Regions from separate parts of the Homo sapiens genome. Here region 2 is linked to region 1. The links come from fine-mapping of genetic effects on gene expression. Tissue or cell type: whole blood. Region 1 holds a variant in brackets; the other region holds the start of a gene. All regions are shown on one strand. Distances are from middle to middle. Region 1 overlaps NHSL2 (NHS like 2). Region 2 holds the start of RTL5 (retrotransposon Gag like 5).

Evidence for each region. PIP is the estimated chance that this variant, and not a neighbour inherited with it, causes the effect.
Region 2: it holds the start of RTL5, and the variant in region 1 is the best candidate, but not a certain one, in a credible set for the expression of RTL5 in whole blood (TOPMed, PIP 0.79).

Annotation. Positions count from the first base shown.
Region 1 is chrX:72,095,839-72,101,210 of GRCh38, forward strand. The region is part of intron 1 of NHSL2 (NHS like 2); the gene reads left to right. Among named protein-coding and RNA genes, the nearest start is that of RTL5, 33 kb to the right of the region's middle. RefSeq lists a silencer at 5,279-5,372. The variant T/C (reference allele first, on the strand shown) is at 2,739.
Region 2 is chrX:72,129,082-72,134,405 of GRCh38, forward strand. It overlaps RTL5 (retrotransposon Gag like 5), which reads right to left and starts at 2,834. Exons shown (of 1, transcript NM_001405151.1): 1 at 1-2,834. The coding sequence starts at 2,459. The coding sequence ends at 750. NHSL2 (NHS like 2) reads left to right here. Exons shown (of 8, transcript NM_001013627.3): 2 at 2,998-3,153; 3 at 5,010-5,137. RefSeq lists silencers at 2,625-2,694, 2,855-2,914.

The DNA.
Region 1 (5,372 bases):
GGTTATGACAGGGTTATTCTGAGCATCAAATGAAGTTTTTGTTACCTTTAAAGCACTGTACAAATGTGCACTGCTAAAATCCATTCCTTCATTCAACAAATAAGTGTCTACTACATGCCAGGCATGAGGCCAGGCCTGAGATTACAGTGGTCATCAAAACAGACAGGGTTCCTGCTGGCACCCTGAGCTTTCAGGTCACAGGGGTAGACATATTAGCCAAAGATCTCCTCATCCGAGGTCCAAGCAGAAGGGAGATGCAGTAGGGCTGCTCTTTTAAAAAGCTGACTGTGGCTGCTTCGTAGAGCCAGAGGGCAGGAGAGGGGGCTGGGAGGCCACTTAGGAGACTTCTGCCTGCAATAGTGGCTTGGTCTAGGGTGGTGGCAGTGCTGATGGTAAGAAATGGCCAGATTCTGGACAGATTTGGTAAGTAGAATCAACGGAACTTGGTGACGGACTAACTTTTGGGAGTGAGGAAGAGGCAAGGAGATATTTTAGCTAACTGTGTCCCCAGGACTTGGGCCACTGGAGCCCATAAAGCCAATCCCAAGGCTGGTGAGGTACAATGTATGGAGGGTCCATTTCTCCTTATCTCGCCTCTGTAGAGCAGTATGATGTCAGTCCTTCAGTCCAGAAATCAGCTTGCTAGACTTAATCTGAAAAAAGCATTTAGTACTTAAAAATTGTATAGGATAATATATGGCATTCTAGCTTTATGTTGAACGCAGAATTCCTCTTAAAGGTAAATTGTTTGCTTCCAATTTTTAAGTTGTTTTAAAATTGACAAATGTAATTATTTGTACATATACATGGGGTATACAGATAATGTATAGTGATCAGATCAGGGTAATTAGCATACCCATTATCTCAAACATTTATCATTTCTTTGTGTTGGGAACATTCAGTATCCTCCTTCTAGCTATTTGAAACTATATATTATCATTTGGGTTTTTTAATTCTTTCTTCTTTTAGAGACTGGGTCTCACTGTGTTGCCCAGGCTGGACTCAAACTCCTGGGCTCACGCGATCGTCCTGCCTCAGCCTCCCGAGTAGCTGGGACTACAAGCACATGCCACCATGCCTAGAAATGATACGTGATTTTTAACTATAGTCATCCTGCAATGGCATAGAACACTAGAACTTTTTCCTCCTCCCCAGCTGTAATTTTGTATAATTTAACAAATCTCTTCCTAGCCCTCCAATTTTTGAATGGGATATTACTTTAAAAATAGCTGAGTTACCATTAACTTAGGATGCTGAAAACGTTCTTCAGTCTAGGTGATCTCTTCTGGGACCAACATATGTTCTTTGAATTGGATTCCTTTCAAACCTTGGGCCCAGTAGTTTTTGTACCAACAGGTTGGAAGAGAAGAGGGCCCAAAAGGGGAAGAAATGGGAAGGGCCACAGACAAACTTAAGTTTCATAACAGTTAACCACACTTAACCGCAGTTAACTATGCTTTACAGCTTCCAGGGGAATTTCACATATATCATTTGTTGTCATATTCTGCAAATTCAGGACCATGGCTGTCTCCTGACTCCCCGTCCAGTGTTCCTGCTACTGATTGCACTGCCAGGTTCTTAACTTTTTGGGGGAGAAGGGGGAGGGGAAGGTCTCTCTGTGATAAACAAAAAAGTTCCAACAGACATTCAAAACCCTTCTTTATTCTAAAGAATTTATTCCATTTGCATTGAGAAGGAGTGTAAAAGAAAATTTGGTATTTTCCCACACCACTTGTCCCCTACACACATCAACAGGTCTTTCATTTCTCAGTTCTTGCAGACCCACCCTTCGGAAGCTATTATCTGCTTGACAGTCTGCTGAGACCTCTTGTCTTTCTTCCTCTCTCAATTAAACTCTAAGGACTGAGGTTCCCATCTGCCCTGGAGCAAACACATCTCTTGTTATACCTGTTTTCCAGAAGCTGGAGAGCTTTTTTCCTTTCTCCAACCGCTATAGTTCTCTTTTCAAAACACTTAAACCCTCTTAGTGATTTTTAACTGCAGGTGGCAATTAAATTGGTTTCCCAAACATGGACCAAACCTTCTCTCCAGTGCCTCCTGCATTTACCCTGCCTCCACCCACCCTTGAACCAGGAAAGAAAAAAACACACAGACACAATTTACTGAGTTATTGTCCTCTCTTCTGTGTAGCCCTCTCTTAACATGAATGTGGCAAAATTGCTAGGAAGAAATGGTAGGATGTATTTCCACTAGGTAGGTCTCTTTCTCCACAGCGGCCATCTTTGATTATTGTGTCTGGAATCGAGCAGTACCCAACCAACATGGTGCCCTTCCTCAGGCTCTTCCTTGGCGGGAAGACAGAGGCAGCAGTTGAGCAAGGGGAGCCAACAGAAGTGGAATGGCTCCTCATTCATAGACCCTTGTGGGTTTTGAAGGAGAGAGGAAAGAGAAGGTTTGGAAAGAATAGGACAGAAAGGGAGGAATAAGAAAGAGGAAGTTGGCCGGGCGCGGTGGCTCACGCCTGTAATCCCAGCACTTTGGGAAGCCGAGACGGGTGGATCACGAGGTCAGGAGACCGAGACCATCCTGGCTAACACGGTGAAACCCCGTCTCTACTAAAAATACAAAAAAATTAGCCGGGCGTGGTGGCGGGCGCCTGTAGTCCCAGCTACTCAGCTGGCTGAGGCAGGAGAATGGCGTGAACCCGGGAGACGGAGCTTGCAGTGAGCGAAGATTGCGCCACTGCACCCCAGCCTGGGTGACAGAGCAAGACTCCG[T/C]CTCAAAAAAAAAAAAAAAAGAAAGAGAGAAGAAGTTGAAAGGGGTGTTTACAAGTGGAGGAATAGAAATAAAGCTATGAATTGAATAATAGAAACTCTGATTTTTAAAATTTTATTTTATTTATTTTTTATTTTAATAGTTTTATGTTACGTAAACCATTATATGTTATTTTTAAATATATGAAAATAAATATATTTAATGGTTTGTTATTGTAAAATGACACGTTTGTTGTTAAAATTTCAAATAGTACTGGAGAGTTTCAAGTGAAACATACATGTCAAAATCATCTAGAATAACAGTTACTTGTGTGTCCTTGCAAACTTATTCCGTGCATATATAAGCATCTGTGTGCTTTTGATACACAAATGAGATCATACAATACATACTGGCCCATTCCTTGCCCATTTTTTTCAACTTACCAATAACTCTGCAGTTTTCTAGTTTCTACTCAAAGAGATATCCTTCATTCTTCTTAATGGCTGCATATCATCCCCTTGTGTAGATGCACCATGATGTGTGGAACCCATCCCTTGTTAATGGACATTTAGGTAAAATAGAAAGTCTAGCACCACACTATCCAATAGAAATATAATGTGGGCCACAAATGCCAGCCACTTATGGAATTTTGAATTTTGTCTTAGTAGCTACATTCCCCTCCCCAGCTGATTTGAAATGCCACCTTTATTATATCCTAAATGCTCATATATACATAAGTTTGTTTTGAACTATTTTATTTCATTCATCTATTTGCCAATTTTGGCACCAGTATCCCCTTGTGTAGGAATTTTTTTTTTTTTTTTTTTTTTGAGACGGAGTCTCACTCTGTCACCCAGGCTGGAGTGCAGTGGTGCATTCTCGGCTCACTGCAACCTCTGCCTCCCGGGTTCAAGCAATTCTCCTGCCTCAGCCTCCTGAGTAGCTGGGATTACAGGCCCCCACCACCACACCTGGCTAATTTTTTATTTGTATTTTTAGTAGAGATGGGATTTCACCATATTGGTCAGGCTGGTCTCAAACTCCTGACCGCATGATCCACCCACCTCAGCCTCCCAAAGTGCTGGGATTGCAGGCGTGAGCCGCCACGCCGGCCACCAGTATCCCCATTTCTAGTAGCCACATTTAAAAAGTAAAAAGAAAAAGGTGAAATTAATTTTAATAATATATTTAATTTACTCCAATATATCAAAAATAGTGTCTTACAATGTAATCAAATATTAAAAATTATTAATGGGATACTTTACATTCTTTGTTTCATATTCAGTCTTTGAAATCTGGTGTATGTTTTACACATCCAGCACATTTCAGTTCAGACTGCCAATTTCAAGAGCTTAAGAGCCACATGTGGCTTCTGGCTACCGTATTGAACAGTGGAAGTTGAGCAGGCAGAGAGATTCAAAATGTCACCTGAGCTGTGTGTCTCTGTGGTTGGTAGGAATGGATTAGAAGGTCAGACATTGAGGACAAAATCCTCAACTTCACCACTCAAGGCAACTCATGAAGCTTCTCAGGGTCTTGGTTTGTGGACTCCAATAAATTCAACGTATGCTGGTTGAGTGCAGACCAGAACAGCCGAGCCAAGTACAGTCAGGCCTCGCTTCACAATGGGGATACGCTACGAGAGAAATGCGTCATTAGGTGATTTCCTCATTGTGCAAACATCATAGAGTGTACTTACACAGACCTAGATAGTGTAGCCTGCTGCACACCTAGGCTATATGGTACAGCCTATGGCTCCAAGGCTACAAACCCATACAGCACGTGACTGTGCTGAATACTACAGGCAGTTGTAACACGATGGTACTTATCTGTGTATCTAAACATAACTAAACCTAGAAAAGATAGAGCAAAACTATGGTATCATCTAATGGGGCCACTGTCATATATGCAGTTGTCATATATGCAGTCCATTAAGCAGGGGTCCTCAACCCCTGGGCCATGGACCCGTACCAGTCCATGACCTGTTAAGAACTGGGTCACACAGCAGGAGGTGAGTGGCAGGCGGGCGAGCATTACCGCCTGAGCTCCACCTCCTGTCAGATCAGCAGCGGCATTAGATTCTCATAGGAGCAGGAACCCTACTGTGAGCTGTGCATGTGAGGGATCTCAATTACTTGCTCCTTATAAGAATCTAACTAATGCCTGATGATCTGAGGTGGAACAGTTTCATCCTGAATCCATGCCCCCACCCAAGTCCGTGGAGAAATTGTCTTCCACAAAACCAGTCCCTAGTGCCAAAAAGGTTGGGGACTGCTGTGTTAACTTACATGCCATTATGTGGCATATTGCTGTACAAATGGCCCTGGCCTTTCCACAAGCCGTAGCATGGCCACAGAGATATAGAAAGAGCCTGAGTGCTCACGAGGTGATTATCTGAGGTCTGTCACAGGTTCCCCTTTCTTTGCTTTCAGAGGCATCTCTGTTCACAGCGTCTCATCACACTCAAAACCCAATGCCTGTTTCCTTTTTTTTTTTTTTTTCAAAAGCAGAGTGTGTGGCAACGGGGCTCTGAGGAAATCCCTACCACTGTGGTTGGGGAGGGTGTGGTGTGAAGAACCCACATTGTGGCTTACTCAACTGTGAGATCTTAACTCTGTGGCCCCAGAGCCACTGTGCTCCTGGGCGGCAGTGGTGAC
Region 2 (5,324 bases), 33 kb after region 1:
TGTGTGGCAAGTCAGTCCAAGAGCCCTGATACAGGAATCTGTGCAAAGGTAAACTCAAGTGCTGTAAGTGGAACCAGCCTGCACAGTCAGTCAAGGGCAAATCTCCGTCAAGTTGTCCATTTGACATGTGGCTTTGCACACTCTCACTGGGCTAGATGTCGGGTCCTCTTCCAGGCCCTCTGCTGGAGGTGTGGCATGAAATGAGTGTAGGATTCTAGGGACATTTCTGGATACCATCCTGCTCACCATCGATTATATCTAGCAACTGGCCTCAGTGGCTTTAGGAGTTCAGGGTAGCCTGTCCTCTTGCTCATTGGGGCAGATCAGTGAGGCATTGGGTGAAGTCCTGGTGGGTCAGTCAGAGAATAAAACTGTAGAACATAGGGTGAAGAAACGCAGGAGAGGTGAGGGTTAGGAACAACCAGAGGGGAAATACAAGAGGGTGACCAGTTCATTTATGGGAACAGGCCCAGAAACTTGCTCTCCAGCTCGTGGCCGGACTGAGCAGAGTACATGCCAAGAGGGCAGCTATTGCTGATCCCTCCTTTCCCAGGTGGCCCTGGTTGGGCACACGTCGCTCTCTGGTCACGGTTGCAAGATGGTCTGGAATTCTGCAGGTCTTCTTCAGGTTCTGCAGGTCTGAAACTCCCTGAAGTCCTGGTCAGCAAATGGGGCAGGTATGGCAGCAATAGCAGGGGCGGGGGATGCAAAAGAAGGGTGTGTTCTGGGTGGCCATCTGGCCCCAGCACTCAAACTCGAATTCGGCCACGAGCAGCTCGGTGGCCCCCCTGTCTCGGAGTGAGGCGGAAAAGCACAGGGGGGCGTCTTCGAACTTGGCGTTGTCCTAAACGACCTGTGCGGCGAATCAGTTGGGGGGAGCTGTAGAATGGTGAATTGGTGCCTGGAAGGCCTTCCAGAAGTGGGACTCGATTCTGGTTCCTCCGTCTGCTAGGCTGTATTATGGGAGGTGATGCACCCAGGAAGTTTTCGGCGTGGTAACCACTTGTGGGGCCAGAAGTCTGGGATGACGCGTGAACAAAGGTCGGCTCCATCTCCATCAGCTCATCTAGGTCATCATCTTGGGCCTCATCCAGTGGCTCCTCCTCCACCTCACCATAGGTCTCCTCAGTCCCTGGATCCTGCTGTGGCTCTCCTTCTGGTTTCTGGCCCCCATCCTCATCTTCATCTTCTTCATCCTTACTCTCTCCTTCCTCCTCATTCTTGTTCCTTATCTCCTCCTCCTCCTCTTTCTGTTTCATTTCCTCTTCCTCCTCCTCCTCCTTCTCTTCCTTCTTCTTCATTTCTTCCTCCTTCTTCATCTCCTCCTCCTCCTTCTCCTTCATCTCTTGCTGAAAAGCCCTCATGCGCTTCCTCTGGTCCTTGGAGTGAAGCCTGTGCCTGCGTGCCTCTTGGTCTTCATCTTCACTGTAGTACTCTTCATCTTCACTTTCTTCCTCATTGGGACTCGGAGCAAAAGGGAAGATGATATTTCGAACTCCAGGGAGCGGGATAGGCTTGGGAACGCGCACTTTTCTTTCTATCTCCACACATTCGAGAATCAGCTCATCCAGGTCGGCCATTTCTGTTGACCATAAGAGCTCTTTGCGGAAGAATTCCGACAGGCCTTTGAGGAATTGGTTTTGGAGGCGGCAGTCATCCCAAGACAAGAATTGGGCCAGGAACTGAAAAGCATCTGCATAGCTGCCGAGGGTACAGTGGCCCTGCTTGAGCTTGCGAATGGCCTTTTTAGCCACACGTGGGGGGATGGGGCCACAGAATTCCTTACGGATTTCATCCAGGAAGCGCGGGAAGTTGGCATGCAAGGGGCTTCCTTCCTGGGTGACCGAGATGGCCCAGTCCTTGGCTTCGCCAGTGAAAAAGGAGATCAGAAAGGCCACCCGCTCGGCGCCCCCGGGGAAATGAACCTCATGGTCGGCTATGAAGGTCTCTAGCTGCATCAGGAATTCAGCCAGGTAGACTGGGTCTCCTGAAAAGGGCTCTATCTCAGGCCGCTCCAGCGGTGCCAGAGGGGGTTGCGGGGGCGGTTCCTTTGACGCGGGCGGAGGCAGCGCCGGCGGGGGCGGGATGGGCAGCAGAGGGGGGTCAGCGGGCCCGTCGGGGGTGCTGCGATCCTGGATCACGTTAATCAAAAGATCATCCGAGATACAGTCGGGCTCCGCGCGTGGGGGAGGCCGGCACAAGAAGGGCAGTTCTCCCCCGGGAATGACTTCGATCTCACTGAGCGCGAACTCCAAGTTCTCCTCCGCAAGGACGGGCACTATGGGTACTGGCCAGCGGATGTAGCTGGAGACATTGCCCCGCAAGGAATTAACCTCGGCCAGGGCTCTCCCGAGCTGGAGGCCCAAATTGGCATTCTCCCCGCGAAGGGCATTTAATTCTTCGCGCAGGGCCACATTCGCCATGCGGAGGCTGTTGAGATTTCCTGACGCCTCAGACATCTCGACAAGCCCAGGGGCCCTGGGGCTCCGTGGTGGGGAAAGGGGAACTGGAACTACGGGCGGCCGGAGGAGGCCGAAATGCGGCGGCGGGGCTCGGGAGGGACCGAAGTGCGGCAGCGGGGCACGGGCCAGGCCGGGCCACACCCACCGGGGCGAGCTCGGAGGGCGGCGCTCTGGGCGGAGGGCCCGGCGGCTCGGCCCAGGGCGCGTTACCTCGTCGCCGGGGCCGGAGAGGGCGGGCGGAGGCACGGGGCCCGGAGGCGCCAGGCGGAGGATGCGGGCGACACGGTGGCGGCGGCGACCGCGCGACCGGGCGGGCGGGCGGGCAGGGGCGAGCGGAGCGGGAGGGAGCGGACTGCGGCAGGATCTGTCGAGGAAAAATCTTGCGGCCGGCGATTCCCCGCCTTTTAAGCGCAGCCTCGCACTCCCCCCACCCCACGCAGGGGCGGGCCTTGGGGAACCGCGGGCGCCCACTGGCCGCCGCGCGCCGCTCCCCTCCAGCTCGCCTGCGCCTCTCACTGACTCTCTCCTTCCCTAGCTGCAGCTAACTCGGGTCGGGAAAATGCGACAGCGACTGCCCACTCGAGGTCGTCATGGCGACAGCCAGTGAACGTGTTCCTCTCCTCGGGCAGGCCCCCGAGTGTAGAGGAGCTGCTTCGGGAGGCGCAGCTCAATCTCCAGAGCCTGTTGCAAGGTACCGAGAGGGAGGGGGGCTGCGGCCGGAGCCCAGAAGCGAGATGCGCAGCGGCAGGAGGGAGGCAAAGAAGAAAGAGGACAGGGACCAGCAAGATAAAGACAGAGAGTTTAAAAACAATCGACAAAGCAGTTTCCAGCTTTCACCTTTCAGCCTAATGATTCTGAAAGAGGCTATTTCCAGGGCTGTTTCCCCCCATCCCCAGCCCCTTTTTTCAGCTCAGTAGCCCATGGGGAAACAAGGACAGAGACTGAGGCAGGGCCATAAGTTATGCCATTCACCGAGAGCTGGGTGGGAGACTCCCACAATGTGGGCCTACATTCCCTCCAGCCCCCCTCTTGCCACATCGCCCATGCCTTTGGGATCCTGGCACCAGAAGACAAAGGGGGCATCTGCAGGATCTCCCACTCTGGGCTTCACTCACTCTGCTCTTGCAATAACCCCTGGATAGCTACTGCCTCACCAAAGTAAGCCCAATACACAGCACCCAGAGGTCACCTATTTTGTCCCCCCTAACCAAGCCTGAGCTTCTCGATGTAAAGAATCACATCTTGCTACCCTTAGGTTTCCAGAAGCACCTGGCACAAGGCTGGATTCCCTCCCCACCTGCCAAGAGGTGCTCAGTGGATGTTGAGCATGAAAAGAGGTCTTGTCAGCACTCCTTTATCTATACTAATAAAGGTTAACTCTAATGGCGAATAGAAAACTGCTGATGGGCCACCAACAGGATGACAGCCATAACCCCCACCCCCTACCAGGGCAGTGGTGACCTTGGAAAAGCAAGATGCCAAGGGACACCATGAGCCTTGTGTTCAGATAACAAAGGACTTGCCACACAGAAAAAGAGTCGATGTGCTCTGTGTTGCTACCATGGCAGAATTAGGACCAGTGGGTGGAAACCCAGAAGGAGGCACATTCCACCTCCAGATAAGGAAGAACTTTCTGACACACCTGACAGCCCCAACTGTCCGTGGAAGAAATGAGCTGCCTTGGGAGGGAGGGAGCTCCCCTTCCCTGCAGGTGTGTGCGCTGAGGCTGAAGAAACACCTAGAAGGGCTGCTGAGGAGGGAGTCTGGGCACAGAATGAGGCGTTGGACCAAAGAACCCCAAGAGCAACCCCAAATCTCTGTGATTCTGAGTCTTTGTTCAGTGTACATACAGCATGAATGTCCCTTCTCTACTCTCACTTTCTTCATGTATTCTCATCAAATTCATCACTTCAATCAACCCTATTCAAATCTTGTGCATCCTTACTCACTGATGATGCCGCTGAACTTCTGCCTCTTTTATGCTGTTACCTCCTCCTTCCCTCTCCTTCACCTTAGCCCTCCTAGACCTGACATCACTTACAGCGGGACTAAGGTGCAGGGAACACGGCCCACAAAGGCTCAAGTAAAAGTTCTTGACATCCAAGAAAGAACTCCAGATTGGACTTCCTGGTGTAAATCTCTTCTTGCTTCACACAGGTCATTTCCTTGGTAGGGTCGCAGAAAACCTTAAGAGCTGCAGGGCTTCAAAGAGAGGAACTTGCAGTCCAAAGTAGCAAAAGGTGTCTGCATTCTGAGCCTCTTTTCGTAACTGAGCACTCAAGGTGGGGATCATTGAGATAAGGGCTTGGTCCCCAAACCACCACAGCATGAATTTATTGACTTTCTCTTCTCCTCGATCCTCATGGTCCTGGGAAGCAAGCACTTTTCCATTTCCAAATCCAGTGGCTCAAACACCTGGAAATAGCCTAAAGAAAATGCAAGTCAGGCCTGGCAGCTAGAGCAGGAGTCCTGGCTCATGGCCCTTCCCCGGCCCAGCGCTCGGCCATGGCACCCTAGAGTGTGTGTCTCCACTGTGCTATTTTTCAGAAGAATATGAGGAACAGTACTCGGAGGCCAGACTTGTGGGGCAGACCTTCCGCTCTTCTGATGAGGCCACTAAGCCCACCCCCAACCCAAGGCCCCAGTCTGCCAGGCGTCTGGAGTTTATATTGATGGTGAGTTGCCTCATCCCCCACCTGGGAGAGCCAGCATGCACCCACTGACAAGAGACCTCCAGCTGCTTACTTTACCCACTGGAAGCTGCTCAGCCCTGCTCACCAGCAGAGCTACCCTGAGGCCCCACTGGGATAGGCCCTGCACAGCAGGTGCCTGGCCTGGTGGCCTGTCCACGCTTTCCTGCCT